Linked DNA regions of Homo sapiens: region 1 is linked to region 2. A link means that fine-mapping ties the variant in region 2 to the expression of a gene that starts in the linked region. Tissue or cell type: whole blood. Region 2 holds a variant in brackets; the other region holds the start of a gene. All regions are shown on one strand. Distances are between the middles of the regions.

Region 1 (7,928 bases), 320 kb after region 2:
CACAACAGCGACACTTTGCACTATCAACAATGAAGCTTGCCCTCAACAATTATGACGTTACTGGTTTTAGTAACATAAAAATACATTGCTGGTTGACAGGAAGGATAAAAATGACATCAAGAATCTCAAAAAGTTATGTGAGGTGCCGGTCACCACATTTAGGCACTCAGGAATTAAAAATCAAATAAAAGCATAGCGAGGTGATGAATTTCCTCCTGGCTTCCCCCTCTACTTGTGCCATATGAGATAAAAGAGAAGGCAAGAGAATGAACGAAGATCATGAGATTTCTTTCAAAAACTATACACAAGCTAAGCTACAGACTTCACTTCAGAGGAGTAAGTGGATGCCTCATTATAAAGGCCACTATGCCAAGTTTCTTTTCACATTCTGTGACAAAGTACCCATGAAATACTTTCACTTTCCTATTAGTATACCAGTCAACTATATTAGATGTTGCTTCACATTTTAAAAGTTGTCACATAGGTTTTTACCAAAGGGCAAAAATAAAGATTTTTTACATCTTATTTCACAGACTAGAAATGGCATAATTTTTGAATAGTCCAGATGAATACCATATTGAATTCAAGATGGACAATCAGATCCAAAATGGAATCAGATAGCCCATGTAATCCAAAGAAGCATTTATGTGAGTTCAAGTATGCTAAAGTAACAAGGCATAGGAGAGAAAAATGTCAAGAATCTCAGTTAAAATAAATGAATGGTGTCAGTGGTTATGTTTCAGTGGTGTGCTGAGCAGTTATCCTCCCAGTTAAGCCAAATTTCAAAATCCTCTGGAAAACTATCTAGATAAGCTGTATGTCGAAATTGCATTCTAATATGGCCATTGGGTTTATTTTTCATTATTATAAAACTATATACAATAGTAAAGTTGTACAAATACATTTTTTCCAGGTGCTAGTTAGCTATAAAAGTTAACAATATATTTTTGGGAAGAAAACCCTATGCATCTGAAATACAATTGGCAATGGAAGCTAATAACCAAAAGATATGTCTAAGCTTCCTATCACAAATATAATTTAACACTCTCCATCTTCTAAGGAATTATTCATTTTTATTTACTCATGTGACAGTGTTTGTACAATGCATTATCATTGAGTAGTGAATAAAAGACTGAGGCTTACTAGAAAACTGGCATCAAGTTATATATATGTGTGTATATATATATCATATTATTTCTTTTAACAAGAACACTGAAATTGAAGTCACAACACTCCTATACGGACTACTAAACTTGAAATACTCATTTCAGAAAGCTATGCCATTTGAATTCTAGGAACGCAAGAGTCAAAATTGTAACTCTCATTATTCTCCTAAAAAGCTGCCAAGCAGAGATAAGCTTTAGTATTAAAGATTTCACATGTCAAGTTCCAGCCCAGTATGGATCGTTTCATGGCAGAATACTTAAATTTGAAATAATAGTGGTACAAAAACACTACTTGACCCTTTAGGTATTGCAGTAAAAGCTGGCTGTGGCACTGCTGGCTAAAAACTATTAAGTTTTCCTGCCACAAATGACCAAAGGCACTTGGATAATCAAGAATTCCACACTGGGCCATATGGTATAAACACTATAAAAGCGTAAAGAAGGGTCAGTATTCTGTGTGTCTCGCCTGTTTGATTCCTGTGGTCTTCAGCTGTCAAAGACCTAGAACTGCAAACATATAATGAGTGGCAAAAAGGTTAAAAAAAATGTTGGGACAAAAAAATCAACTAAAAATCAACTAATTTTCATTATGTTTGTAAAACTGATGAATATTAGTCTAGACATTTCTTGTTATCCAACAACAAAAACAAAAAGGAAATAGATTTCGCCCAAAGTAACCTTAACCAGTTATTTGATACCAAGAAATGCCTCCACCCCTCTTGATCATTAATAGTTCTAAGAATTCTAATGGGTATTCTGTTTATCATTTTAGTGATAATGTTTACACACATCCATCTCTCCTATGCAACTCCCATTTTAAAATACATTATCCTTGTAAAATACATTACAAGGATAATGTATTTTAAAATACTTTAACGCATAATATTCCTAGATTTGTATGTTAGACCAGGACAGGGGGCCAAATCATCTCCAGTCGGATTCCAGTGACTCCTGTAACCAAAACCAGTTCTTCACAATTTATTCATTTTTTTTAATCACACACCATATGGTTTCAATGCATTTTTTTATTCAATTCAAAAGAATTTAACAAGTTAACTTTTCCTAAACAAAAGTTTTCATGTGTATTCTACCATTTTTAGGAGCTCAGTAAATATAAACATTGTTTCAATACAAAACCTTTAAAAATACCTTGAAAATGTTTAAACAGTTGTATTTTGCATGTCTTTGTTTGTAATCACTGAGCCCATACAAATCCTTGCACTACTAACAGTCACAAGCTTGAACCTCTTAAAAAATATCCTCGATCAAAGCTTTGGAATCCAGTAAAAATTAGGAAACGAGTGGGCTTCAGAATACCCTGAGCACAAACTAGTGCAACACCACATGTTCGAACTTCTGTCCACAAAGAGGGGTGACAGTGAAATAGAAAAAGGGGGAGATAAAGAACAAGTAAATTCTGGCTTTATTACACAAGCACGAAACCAAATTCCTTTGGAAAAATAATGTCTTCGGAGGACTTCCAGACCAGTGAGGTAGAGTCCAACAGTGAGAAAACGGATCTGCCCCTAAGGTCCTGGAGACGTCTCAATCGGTGGTCAGGAAGAAAGGGACCTCCCCTGCGGGTCCAGCTGTCCCCTCCCTCCGCAGGCCGGGTACGGGAGGCAGCAGAGGGCACACCTGCCCCAGCGTCCAAGACGACCGCGCCGCGGCCCGGGACAGGGACAACCATCCGGCAACTTCTTCGCGCGTAAAGTGCATTGGGGGCCGGGGTCCTGGCCGGATCTGTAAACACTCGACTGACACTTGTTCATTCCTCCGGGCGGAAGGCCTGTCCCAAGGTCGGGGCCGGCAGGAGGCGCCCTGGAGGCCGCACCTCATGCCCGGGGCACCGGGAAGCGGCGGAGCCTCACCATGGGTTCCAGGTTCACTCGCAGGACCTGGCGCGCCCTGCGCCGCGCTGCCGCCAGGCTGCGCTCGCCCCACACGTCGCTGCCGACGCGGATGGTGGGGAAGGTGGTCAGCGTCGGGGTGGCCGCCCTCCAGATCTCCTCCAAGGTGCGGCCCCCGAAGCAGGGCCCGGGGGCCACGGGCTTGGCCGGGCAGCTCTCCTCGGGGGGCGGCGGCGGTGGGGGTGGCGGCCGGGGCTTCCTCCTGCGGGCAGCGGCCGCCCGGGCTCCGCGGCGCCTCCTCCTGGCCGCTGCGCGCGGAACCGGCCGGCGCGCCTGGCCGCGGGCTGTAGGGGGCCCCGGGGGGTCGGGTACCAGGGCCCGGCAGGAGGAGTAGCCGTAGACGTCCTTGCTGCGCAGGATGTGCGGGGAGAACTGGTGCTTGAGGCTGCAGAGGAAGCTCCAGAGCTCCGCGTCCGAGCTCATGAACTCCGTGCTGCGGGGCATGAAGAGCTTGAAGGCGTCGCCCAGCGCCTTGGTGCTGTCAGCCAGCGACAGTTGCGACCGCGAGTACACCACCTTCTCCTCCCGCGCCTCCAACCCAGCCCCGTCTTCTGCCCTAAAGTCGCCGCCCCGGGCGGCCGTGGCCGGGGCGACCGGGCGCCGGCGCCGCCGCCTCTTCATACTGCGCCGCATCGAAGGCCGCTCCGGGCCACTCACGCTCGCCGGGTCCCACTACTGCCGCCGCCGTCCCAGTCCGCGTTGGCTCCGCGGCGGCGGCTGCTGCTGGCGTCTCTCGCTACTTTTCTCGCCTCCGCCGCCGCCCCTCCCCCTCCGAGGGCGGAGGACGCGGGCGAATATCCTGCTGCCCGGTACAAGATGGCGGCCGGCGCCCACCCCTGGGCTTTGTCATTGGACGGCGCCTCGCCCCCCTGGTTTCTCTTTCTTCTCCTCTCTTGCCTCTTTTCGCCGGCTGCCTTTCTTTAAATGTGCCCGCCTCAGGCCCCTCCCACCGCAGCCCCGACTCCACCCATTGGGTGCTCTCAGAAGAGGGGCGGGGACTGATGGGGGAGAGGCCAGTTCCTGGAAGATGGTGCTGGGGTGGGTGATGGCCTTTGAACGTAAGTCAACGGTTGGGTGGATCTAGGAGGGCTGCCACGTCTAGAGTAAGAGGGTGGATGTTGGCTACACCATGGGAAGAGTGACTCTTAGAGTGAGGGGGTGTGCAGTTGTGGATTGAGCTGGGAGCTCTACCAGTGTGGATAACAAAGGGAGATTTCCCTGAAGGATGTTCCTGGTATCATCACAGCTAGGGAATTTGGGTTTAAGTCTAGGGGAAATGGGCCTTTCGCAATTCCCATCCACCCTCTCAAAGGCCTCTTCTGGCATCTTCATTCAAAACTCTTCCCTGTCTTGACCCCAGCCCATCTCAAGAAGCCAGTAGTAATCCAGAATCATTCAGGTAATGTGCGTGGCTGGCAGCTGAGAGATTTTAGTCTCCCTCTGGACACTGGAGCCATCTTCATATTTAAGAGAGACCCTGCTTATCCAGAAAGCAAAACATGTCATACCCTATAAAACTAAATACTCTTTGCTCAAGTTGATCAAAGATCTATTACAATAAAGCCATTCTGTGAAAAGAAAATATAGTTTTAAATACACAGTTCTTTATGGATGCCAATTCGTTTTTCATTTAGTTTTAAAATGTCAAAGCCACCCCTATCATTTAGAAAGGATGCATCATCGCAGACAACAGATAAGGTTTCGTTGAAAAACACAAATTGTTCAAAACACATTACCTTTTGTATTGGGAGGAGAGTAGTGGACATCCTTTAGTCATCTTTTCTGTCCTCTATACCTAACTCAGTTCCTGTCAGGTAGTGGACACTCAATGTGTTTGCCGAATGAATCAATGAAATACCACCGATTATCCCAAATAGAGTCAGAAATGTTGAAACTGCTTAGAACAGGACAATTAGATATTTTATATTGCAATTTTCACAGAACTCCTTTAAATTTCTTAAGGTTAAAAGAAAAAATCTCCTGACACTTAGAACTTTGAGGTGGGCATGTGGATTTTACCCAGGAAACATCTTATTTTGCAGTAGTGAACAAATAAAGTATAGGAGTTTTGTGATTTACATGTAGTTGCTAATGGTTTCCTCAAATATTTGACCTGAAAGAGACCTAGTTCATTCTCCTTATTTAACAGGTGAGGAAATCTGTACCATAGAGGTTCAGTAACACAGCTGGCTGATAGCAGAACTGGGATTCTAAATCCTTCGATTTCTAATCTAGTGATCTTTGTATTTCACTGAAGGTTTTTCAAACTGTGCTGTCCAGACTCTAAGGAATTCAATAGAACATGCTTTATGCATAAGTAGAATGACGAAGGACAGAGCTGTACCCCTATTCCTACTTCCACCCCACCCAGAATTGAGCAGTTTTTCTCTGTCTTATAATAGATTTATGAATAATATTTTGTTTGTTCAGTTTCAATAAAACCTAAAATAAATAATTTGAAAGCTCTACACCAGAGATGTCAAATTCTTGAAAGCTCTCACCACACAATGAGTTTATGGCAAAAATAAAACTCCACACAATGGGCTTATGGCAAAAATAAAACATCTAACCAGGAACCAGCTCTCTAGCAAAATCATGGTAACTTTCTGAATAGAAAATCATTTTCCTAGAAAAGCACACTCTGATCTCAGAACAAGATTACAGAGCCAAATACCAGCTTCCTAAATCCTTATAAAGGAATGATATAGCAACAACTCTTTACATCACAATTTGCTCTTTCCGTAATTCTGAGACACATAGTAAAGTGAAATTTGAATAATTTCCATTGGAATACCCAAAATCTAGAGTGAGCCATGAGAAAGTTAGGGGGGCTTCATAATGAAAAGCAAGGATAAAACAAGGATTAAAGTAGACCTGGCTTTTCATATTGGAATCCCCTCCCTTCCTTGATAATCATCATTTTATAAATTCTTCAGGGTCTTTACCACATAAATATATTCCAGACATTTACATAAATGTATAGAACTTATTTCAATTAAGAAGATAAACCTTTTTTAAACACAATTTTGGTTCTAAGAAAACATAAGATCTCAACTTGCCAAGTATTCAAGAGTTCATTTTATAATGCATGCTCATTTAATTTACTTAAAACCAAACAATATTTTTTATGAAATACTTTTAGGAACTAATATCATGATAAAGTGCTTATGTTATCGTATACATTTAAATTTGACATTATTTGCTCTATTCTGTTTCCTCTATTATTTTTAATTTTTTCTTGACCTCCACCTTTTAATTAACTCTAATAGTCTTGCAAATGGTTCCTTATCTGTTCTCCATAAATAAGCAAAATTTACACATAGAAATAATGTATCTCTTCTAGTTCCTGAGACTTGAGATACTATGAAGTTTATGGAAAGTTGGCAAATTAAATTTTTGCTCTTGAGTAACGATATTTTACAACCCTTAGTTTATTCCTTTACCTCTCAAGGGTAATAATGCCTCCTATGTCTGCTAAATAAGTGATGAATAATAATAAACAAAAAAAAGCTGTATGTATTTACTTTCTGTATTCAATATTTATGTAGTTAAAAAATAAATCCAAGCCGAATAAAGTGATGGGAAAAATTAAATAAAATGTATCTTTTAGCTACCCAGAAGTATTGCTTTAGAATCCAATTTCTATAAAATAATCTGCCTCTTGAAAAGTGGCCAAAAAAATTTTGAAAATCTATATAAGTGGTTGCAAACATCAGCTCTGGAATCAAATAAACTTGGGGTCAATTATATCTTTACAAAAAAATATTCTTAGACACATTTTTCACCTTTCTGAGTCTCAGCATTCTCATCTATAAAATGAGTATAACTTCTAACTTCAAAGTTTTAAGAACTGGACGAGAGAATATTCATAAAACACTTACTGTAGTGCCTGGAACACAGCATTCAATAAAAGCTATTCCTATTTGTCTTATTTATTTTTGAGGATTTTACTTGGTTTAATCAATATATTTTAAGCCCTGTATTACAGAATGTCTACATATTTTTTTAAAGTAGTGGCATTGATGAGAGGAAAATAAAAACTTTACAGCTAGAAGAAACTTAGAGATCATCTAATGAGTCCAACATTGTTAATTCAGATGAGAATTCTGAGATGCCAAGAGATCTGCCTAAGGTCACAGAGCTGTACAGTGGAAGATTCTGAGCTAGAACGTAGATCTCTAACTCTAGTTCAGAATTGTTTCTAACATTCTACATTTTGTACTTAACCAAGGAGATAGCATTAATTGCTGGCTTAAATGATGTTAAATATAGCATGATTCAGCAAGAAAAAACTCAGCCTTGTCATTAGACCTATTCTAAAAGTAATTTAGATTTTTATACAAAAGTTAGCTCAAACCCTGATATGCTCTGCAACGGCTTAATGTGAAAAACATAAAGACCATATAAACTGAGAGGATAGGACTTTCTTTTGCTTATAGGAATACCTGTACTTTCCCTATTTTTCCCGCTAATTGCAACTAAAAACCTTGGATGTTATATATAAAGTATACATAAGAAGACTCTGAAAAATGGAGAAGAGAAGGCAGACAGGCTGGAGACCTCAGAGAACCCAAAGAAGGGCATGGCAGTGAGTTCCCTGGGTCTCCTTTCTTCTTCTTTTCTCTTTTTCTAGCAAATCTGAGACTGGGTGCTAGACAAGCCAACAACCCCAAAATGCCAACAGATGCAAACATAAAAAGCCCCAACAAAATCTTCTTCTCTCTAGCTACAGGACCGGGAAAGGAGGGGCAGCCTAACAAAACGGAAAGCTTTTAGAAAATAATTTTCCTACTGCTGCAAAACACCATAGAAAAAAATTATGACTTCTACCCTTGCCAGGCTATAAAAAGGC
Region 2 (7,928 bases):
GATCGGAAAGATTTGTCTATAAGGTTTTATTAAAAATTGGGGTTGACATTAATAGTACACTAATGCAAGGGTGAAATGTGGCTTTCTCTCCTGAACAAGATTTTCATGTAATATTAAAAGACACTGAAAGATTTTTATTTGCCTTTTGAATAAACTACCAACAAAAAAAGAAGGGAAAGACAAGAGACAGATTGTTTGGAAAGCTAAGTCTTCCCTCTTTCAATGAGTGAAGGTTTTTGCCTAAAAAAGAGGTTTTTTTGATAATCATTTTGGCTAAATGAATGACTTATGGTAACCTGGAGTTCTATTTCATAATATCAAGTGTTTTAAGCCTCTAACATATTTGATAGGCTTCCCAAAATCAAATTGCAGCTTCAAAATTGTCTTTTCTGACCTCTAACTTTGAGATGCTGCGAAGGGCCCCTGAATCATCCAAAAGAGAGGTGAGAAGAATCATTTGACACGTTTAGTTACATGGGAAGTATTGACAAAAACTTAAAAAATTTAGTCTTCTTCAGGTTATAGTTTAGTGAATGATATTATATATTTTCCAAAATTGTATGGGATTTCTAAAATTCTAAGATGTCTGAGTATATGCCATCAATCATAATTATGGTTATTATGTTAAATGATTGTAAACCACAGAAATAACCAAATTTCCTTGTCAATTGTGTTTTTAACTGTAACTATTTAAAGTTATTTCCACAGTTAATTGTTTAATGCTGATGCAGTTTCTGAAAACGTCACAAGCACACAAAATCCTAGAATATGGTGTCTTTTAGGAAGTTGATTAAAGGATGGAAAGGACTCTAAAAAGCACTCTTGAATACAGGTTTCTGAGAACTTTAGAATCATATCATTTGAACTGGGTAAGAATTCCTGGAACTTTAATGAAAAGACTGACTGGGTTATAAAACTGCTAACCTAGGTAGAACAAAAATTAATTAAATACCAAGAAAATACTTTGCCAGATTTTTATGCTAAATCGGCTGTTACTGAAATTGTTTAGATATACAATTTGAATGAATTCCATGGTCTAAGTCAAATTACCTATGATAACCCATCAGTTACCAGTGTTATTCACCTAATTTGGTGAAACAACTGGTATTCAAGAGCATATAAGTCTAATGTTCATTAAGCATGGATTCATGGAAAATGAGGATGGCCACCTTGTCCTTCTCAAGTCCTTAAAGCTTTTATTATTAAAAGTTCAGCCAGGTGTGGTGGCTCACACCTGTAATCCCAGCACTTTGGGAGGCTGAGGTGGGCAGATCATGAGGTCAGGAGTTCAAGCCCAGTCTGGCCAATATGGTGAAACCCCATCTCTACCAAAAATACAAAAAAATTAGCTGGGTGTGGTGGCATGCACCTTTAGTCCCAGCTACTTGGGAGGCTGAGGCAGAAGAATCACTTGAACCCAGGAGGTGGAGGTTGCAGTGAGCCAAGATTGCCCTGGACGAAGATTCATCTTTGATGTAAACATCTTTTTCCAAGATCACAGATTAAGACTTCTACTATCATGAGACTCTTATCCTTGAATATTTTTTGTTTATGCCTCTATGAACAATAGAAATGAAAAAGGGATCTGTTTTGTGCACTTATGGGGTATACTTTTATTTGTGAAGGATTTTGCAGCCAGCCTTATACATGGATAATCTTATACTCTGATAGATAAAAGATGAAGACCCAGTGTAGGTGAGAAACTTTAATGCTACATACGTTGCCTCATAATCAGTCAGAAACAGAAGATTGGTTCACTCCTATTAACCCACTCATGGGTTAAAAAGAACATTCCCAGGAGGCCTTCACTCTTCTATAAGAGAAGGGCATCATTTATTAGGTCTATTTTCCATTTGGAAGGATTTGGAATAAAAGAGGTAATGATTAAAAATGTATCCCTCACAATAGGTTCTATAGCAGATTCTACTGTAAAGTCTATAGTTACACAACAGACTTTAAATTATCTTGTGAAAGTTATGCTAAAGAATAGAATTGGCCAAAGAGAAAAGTATCTATGCAGCTGCTGGCAGTCATGGCCTATGGTGGAAAACATCAGGTATTATAGAGTTTCAGTTGTAGTGGATTAACAAAGAGACTGTTTAGTTAAGTGAGTAGACTGCTTATCTAGCTCATTCTTTGATCTATTTGATTTTAGGTGGTTTGGTTTATGGGGACCCTGGATAAGGAACATACTTCAAACTCTTGGTATTATCCTTTTGATAGTCATAATAATAGTCTCCCTGGTGCATTGTATTCTCTCAAAGGTTTTACATGCTTGCATGCAGCCATCTCTAGAATGTCAAATGGTCTCTCTTCAAGTGGAATGACAAAAGCTGAATGAAATATGTGACCACAAGGACACTGTAACCTATGAATGGCATGCTGAGACCAGAAACCCAAAATGATGGTAACTGAGAGTGGTACTAAGGCTCTAAGTTTTGATCATACTCTCACCTAAGTGAGAACCTGACCAAAAGGGGGGAATTTTTAAAAACAAAATTGTGGTAGGCCATTGTTTTGGACTGAGCTCATGCATTAGACCTCATCAGATCAAACCAAACAAAATGGAGTTGCTTGGGCTAAGACTTTAAGGCGATACATTGTATTAGTCCATTCTCACACTGCTGATAAAGATATACCTGAGACTGGGCAATTTACAAAAGAAAGAGAGGTTTAATGGATTTACAGTTCCACGTGTCTGGGGAGGCCTCACAAGTATGGTGGAAGGCAAGGAGGAGCAAGTCACATCTTATATGGATGGCAGTAGGCAAAGCAAGAGCTTGTGCAGGGAAACTCCACCTTATGAAACTGTAAGAGCTCTTGAGACTTATTCACTATCATGAGAACAACATGGGAAAGACCTGCCCCCATGATTCAATTACCTCCCACCAGATCTCTCCCATAATACGTGGGTATTCAAGATGAGATTTGTGTGAGGACACAGCCAAACCATATCATTCCGCCCCAGCCCCTCCCAAATCTCATGTCCTCACATTTCAAAACCAATTATGCCTTCCTAACAGTCCCCCAAAGTGTTAACTCATTTCAACATTAACTCAAAAATCCACAGTCCAAAGTTTCATCTGAGACAAGGCAAGTCCCTCCTGCCTGTGAGACTTTAAAATCAAAAGCAAGTTAGTTACTTCCTAGATACAATGGGGGATAAGCATTGGGTAAATACAACCATTCCAAATGGGAGAAATTGGCCCAAACAAATGGGCTACAGGTCCCATGCAAGTCCAAAATCCAGCAGGGTAATCAAATCTTAAAGCTCCAAAATGATCTCCTTTGACCCCGTGTCTCACATCCAGGTCATGCTGATGCAAGAGGTGGGTTTCCATGGTCTTGACAGCTGCACCCCTTGTGGTTTTGCAGGGTACAGCCTCCCTCCCAGATGCTTTCACAGGATGGCATTGAGTGTCTGCAGCTTTTCCAGGCTCATGGTGCAAACTATTGGTGGATCTACCATTCTGGGGTCTGGAGGATGGTGACTCTCTTCTCATAGCTCCACTAGGTGGTGCCCCAGTAGGGACTCTGTGTGGGGGATCTGACCCCACATTTCCCTTCTGCACTGCCCTAGCAGAGATTCTCCATGAGGGCCCCACCCCTGCAGCAAATTTCTGAGCATCAAGACATTTCCATACATCCTCTGAAATCTAGGCGGAGGTCCCCAAACCCCAGTTCTTGACTTCTGGGCACTCATAGGCTCAACACCACCAACTTATAGGCTCAACAAGCAAGATGGCTGCATGCAAGCATGCCTTCTGCAGCCATGGCCTGAGCTCTATGTTGGCCCCTTTCAGCCATGGCTGGAGTGGCTGGGATGCAGGGCACCAAGTCCCCAGGATGCACACAGCACAGGGACACTGGGCTTGGCCCATGAAATGATTTTTTACTCCTAGGTCTCCATGCCT[G/A]TGATGGGAGGGGCTGCTGTGAAGACCTCTGACATGCCCTGGAGACATTTTCCCCAGGGTCTTGAGGATTAACATTCGGCTCCTTGTTACTTATGCAAATTTCTGCAGCCGGCTTGAATTTCTCAGAGAAATTGGATTTTCTTGTCTATTGCATTTTCAGGCTGCAAATTTTCTTAACTCTTATGCTCTGCTTCCCTTATAAAACTTAATGCATTTAACAGCACCCAAGTGACCTCTTGAATGCTTTGTTGCTTAGAAATTTCTTCTGCCAGATACTCTAAATCATCTCTCTGAAGTTCAAAGTTCCACCAATCTCTACAGCAGGGGCAAAATGCCACCAGTCTATTTGCTAAAACATAGCTAGAGTCACCTTTCCTCCAGTTCCCAACAAGTTCCTAATTTCCATCTGAAACCACCTCAACCTGAGCTTTTTTGTCCATATCACTATCAGCATTATGGGCAAGGTCATTCAACAAGTCTCTAGGAAGTTCCAAACTTTCCCACATTTTCCTGTCTTTTCCTGAGCCCTCCAAACTGTTTCAACCTCTGCCTGTTACACAGTTCCAAAGTTGCTTCCACATCTTCACGTATCTTTTCAGCAGTGCCCCACTCCTGGTACCAATTTACTATATTAGTCTGTTCTTACACTGCTGATAAAGACATACTCAAGATTGGGCAATTTACAAAAGACGGAGAGGTTTAATGGACTTACAGTTCCACGTGGCTGGGGAGGGCTCACAGTCATAGTGGAAGGCAAGGAGGAGCAAGTCATGTCTTACATGGATGGCAGCAGGCAAAGTGAGAGCTTGTGCAGGGAAACTCCCCCTTATAAAACTATCAGATTTCATGAGACTTACTATCACAAGAAGAGCACAACAAAGACCTGCCCCCATGATTCAATTACCTCCCACTGGGTCCTTCCCACAACACATGGGAATTCAAGATGTGATTTGGGTGGGGACACAGTCAAACCATATTACACATGGATCCTAGAAGAGAAGAGGTTTTGTTTTTCTCCTGTAAATCTCTATAACAAACATTCCTGAGAGCATAAGTATCTACCTCCTGAAGTTCCCATTAAATCTTTTAACCAAATTCATTTCCTCTCTCCTAGAGACCATCAAGCTTCAGATGATCATGTGACAAAGGTTCCAGTCAGTTCCAGGTGAAGACACCACCCCTGGTCATTAAGGAGCTACCCTGTCTCCATTAGACAGAGCAGGACAAGAGTTCTGTGATCCACAATGGGTAGGGACTACACCCTGAGCCAGCATGAAGCAGTTACAGAAGAAAGACCGTCAGTCCCTCTGCCTCCCATAAAGATTTATGGGGATCACATCTTTTGGGGGGAAATAAGACAGGAGAATAGGGCCTGGAGGCAGGGAACCTAAGGACTTATTAGAACTAAATCAAAGGAAAACACTTCAGTGATGACAGGAAATATCCTCTTCATTTACATAGGGCATACACCTAGTAAATGACTTTGTAACTTGAATTCATCCTCTTCATTTACATAGGGTTTACACCAAGTAACCAGTGAAAATCTCTAGAGGGTATTTAAGCCCCAGAAAATTCTGTAATCGCACTGTTGAGACCCTATGCTTGCTCCTGCTCCCACCCTGTGGAGTGTACTTTCATTTTAAAAAAATCTCTGCTTTTGTTGCTTCATTGTTTCCTTGCTTTGTTTGTGTATTTTGTCCAATTCTTTGTTCAAGACACTAAGAATCTGGACACCCTCCAGTGGTAACAATTTGCAAGCTCGATTGGAGGTGGAGTGGCTTCAAAATTGGCTTAGTCACATGGCTGGCAAGTTGGTGCTTGCTATTGGTGGGAGGCTTTCACTATTTCTCATGGGTTCTTCTCCAATGGGCTGCTTGAGCTTCCCTCCAGTATGGTAGCTGGCTTCCCAGAAAGAGTGGTCCAGCAGAACAAAGCAACAGCTGTGGTGACTTTTATGACCTATCCTCAGAAGTTAAACATGGTCTTCTCCATCAAGTGGTTGCACAGACCACCTCTGATTCAATGTAGGAGGAGACTTCAGATGATCACGAATAGTAAGAGGTGAAGATCATGCAGGCATCCTAGAGCCTGACTGTGACAGGGTAGTATATGCCTATATTCCTCCCTCAATATTTTCCTGTTTTCCTACTCTGCCTGTTTGGCAAGGACACAGTGGCTCCTAACCTCTCTACTCTTAATCTCTTCATTGTGTTTTCTTGATATTTCTCAAGATTCCTACATATATTGAGTCATACAGAATGTAAAACCAACAGTTTTTAAAATTAATCAATTTTAGCAGTTTTTAAGCTTTCAGAGCTGTCCACTTCATCCTAACACTTTAGGAGTTGGTGGCCATCCCATGATCTCCTTCACGTTTATGTAATGTTCTATCTGCCTGCTCACAGTCTGTATCTCATCCTGGAGAGTCCTTATTTGTAAAGCATATCTGTCTTCTTGTACTTATCCTTCTGGTCTCTTCATGGATCTACTACCCTTTCTAGTGCTTTACCTATGTCATCACAAAGATTCCAGAATGAAGTCTCCTTCCTTCAAGATGGCAACCCTGGAGCATGGTTTTATTTGAGCCTGAGCTGGAATTGCAAAATTAGGCAGCTTGGCAGGAGAAAGCTAGAGCCAGGCATCAGTGGACCCCAACCTCTGAAGAAACCAACGCTTTTACAAACAGCTCCCTTCTGTAATGTCATGGGAGAGTAATTTTTTGCTTTTATAGGGTTTCTTCAGACAGAAGTACCACACAAAGATTATACAAGGATCTATGCTTTTCCATGTGGGGGTTTGATACATTAATGAGAATTTGACAAATCCTGACCACTCTGCCATCTGTGGGCCTCATTCTGTTCCTACTTCTGTGATGCTTTCCATCTGTTCTGAGACAGAGGAACTCGTTCCACTGACATAGGCAATACTCCTAACCCTACCAGCTGTCTTACAAGGGTGTGTTGCTGCTCACTGGAGAAAATGAAAGAAAAGGTATATATTCAACAAAAATCCTGCCAGAAACAATTCACATTCTTCCGTACAGGTAGCTTACAAAGGGGCACAATATGGGATGGGTTTATATTAATCATATCTCATACTTTTCATGAGGTTATGTCATCTTACTGCTCAGAAACCTCCAATAGCTCTCACGACTTAATCAAACTCCTTATCTTAGCATTGTAGGCCTTCCGGCTGTCATTCAGGCTTCATGGCACTTTATTAATACAATATTCCTTTCCCTTCCCCGCTACATGTCACCTATACTTTAGCCAAATGGGACCACATACTATTGTTCTAACCTGCTCCATAAATTTCTGCCTCCATGCTTTTAGAAATTGTATTCTCTGCATTCTAAATGTTTTCCTGTCATGTTGACCATAGAAGTGCTTCCCTTCCCTGAGATCTGTGGTAAGTGCTACCTCACTTATGACACCCTTCCTGATTTCCTCTATCTAGTGATCTCACTTCCCCATGGACTCTGAGAGCACTTTAGTGGTAACGTGTTTATAGACTTACCACATTCTTCCGGATATTTGAGCTGTTACTGTAACAGAGTCACGATGCTTACTTCCGCACTTGATGTTTTCCAAAATATTGATGGCTGAGAGTGAGAACAATCTGTTTTAATTCTGCCAGTGATTATTAAATTTATCTTTGAAGAAGGGTAGATCTTTGAGTTTTGGAGAAGAATAAGACTTAAGGGAGTTTTAGATTATACAAATGAAAGATAATCTTTTGGAATACAGAGACTCTGGTCCAATGTTTCTCAATTTGGTTTCCACAAAACCTTAAAGTTCAATATGTCATCACTAGGGGTTTGTAAGAGATTTTGATTTAAAACCTAGACATCAACTTTCGAAGTTTGCATACTTTGAGGATAGATAGTGGCTAAGCAGACATGTCAGCAATTTCATTCGGGGTCTTTCAGCCCCATTGTGGCAGTGTGCAATAGGATTGTATTTGTTTGTGCCCAGTTTGGTTTATGATGCAAGCTATGGGAGGTTACTGGTAACT

What was found. PIP is the estimated chance that this variant, and not a neighbour inherited with it, causes the effect.
Region 1: it holds the start of CCDC71L, and the variant in region 2 is fine-mapped to the expression of CCDC71L in whole blood (TOPMed, PIP above 0.99).

The regions. Positions count from the first base shown.
Region 1 is chr7:106,657,188-106,665,115 of GRCh38, forward strand. It overlaps CCDC71L (coiled-coil domain containing 71 like), which reads right to left and starts at 3,971. Exons shown (of 1, transcript NM_175884.6): 1 at 1-3,971. The coding sequence starts at 3,709. The coding sequence ends at 3,002. RefSeq lists an enhancer at 2,745-2,794 and a silencer at 3,145-3,414.
Region 2 is chr7:106,337,628-106,345,555 of GRCh38, forward strand. No RefSeq gene overlaps it. Among named protein-coding and RNA genes, the nearest start is that of NAMPT-AS1, 56 kb to the left of the region's middle. The variant G/A (reference allele first, on the strand shown) is at 3,915.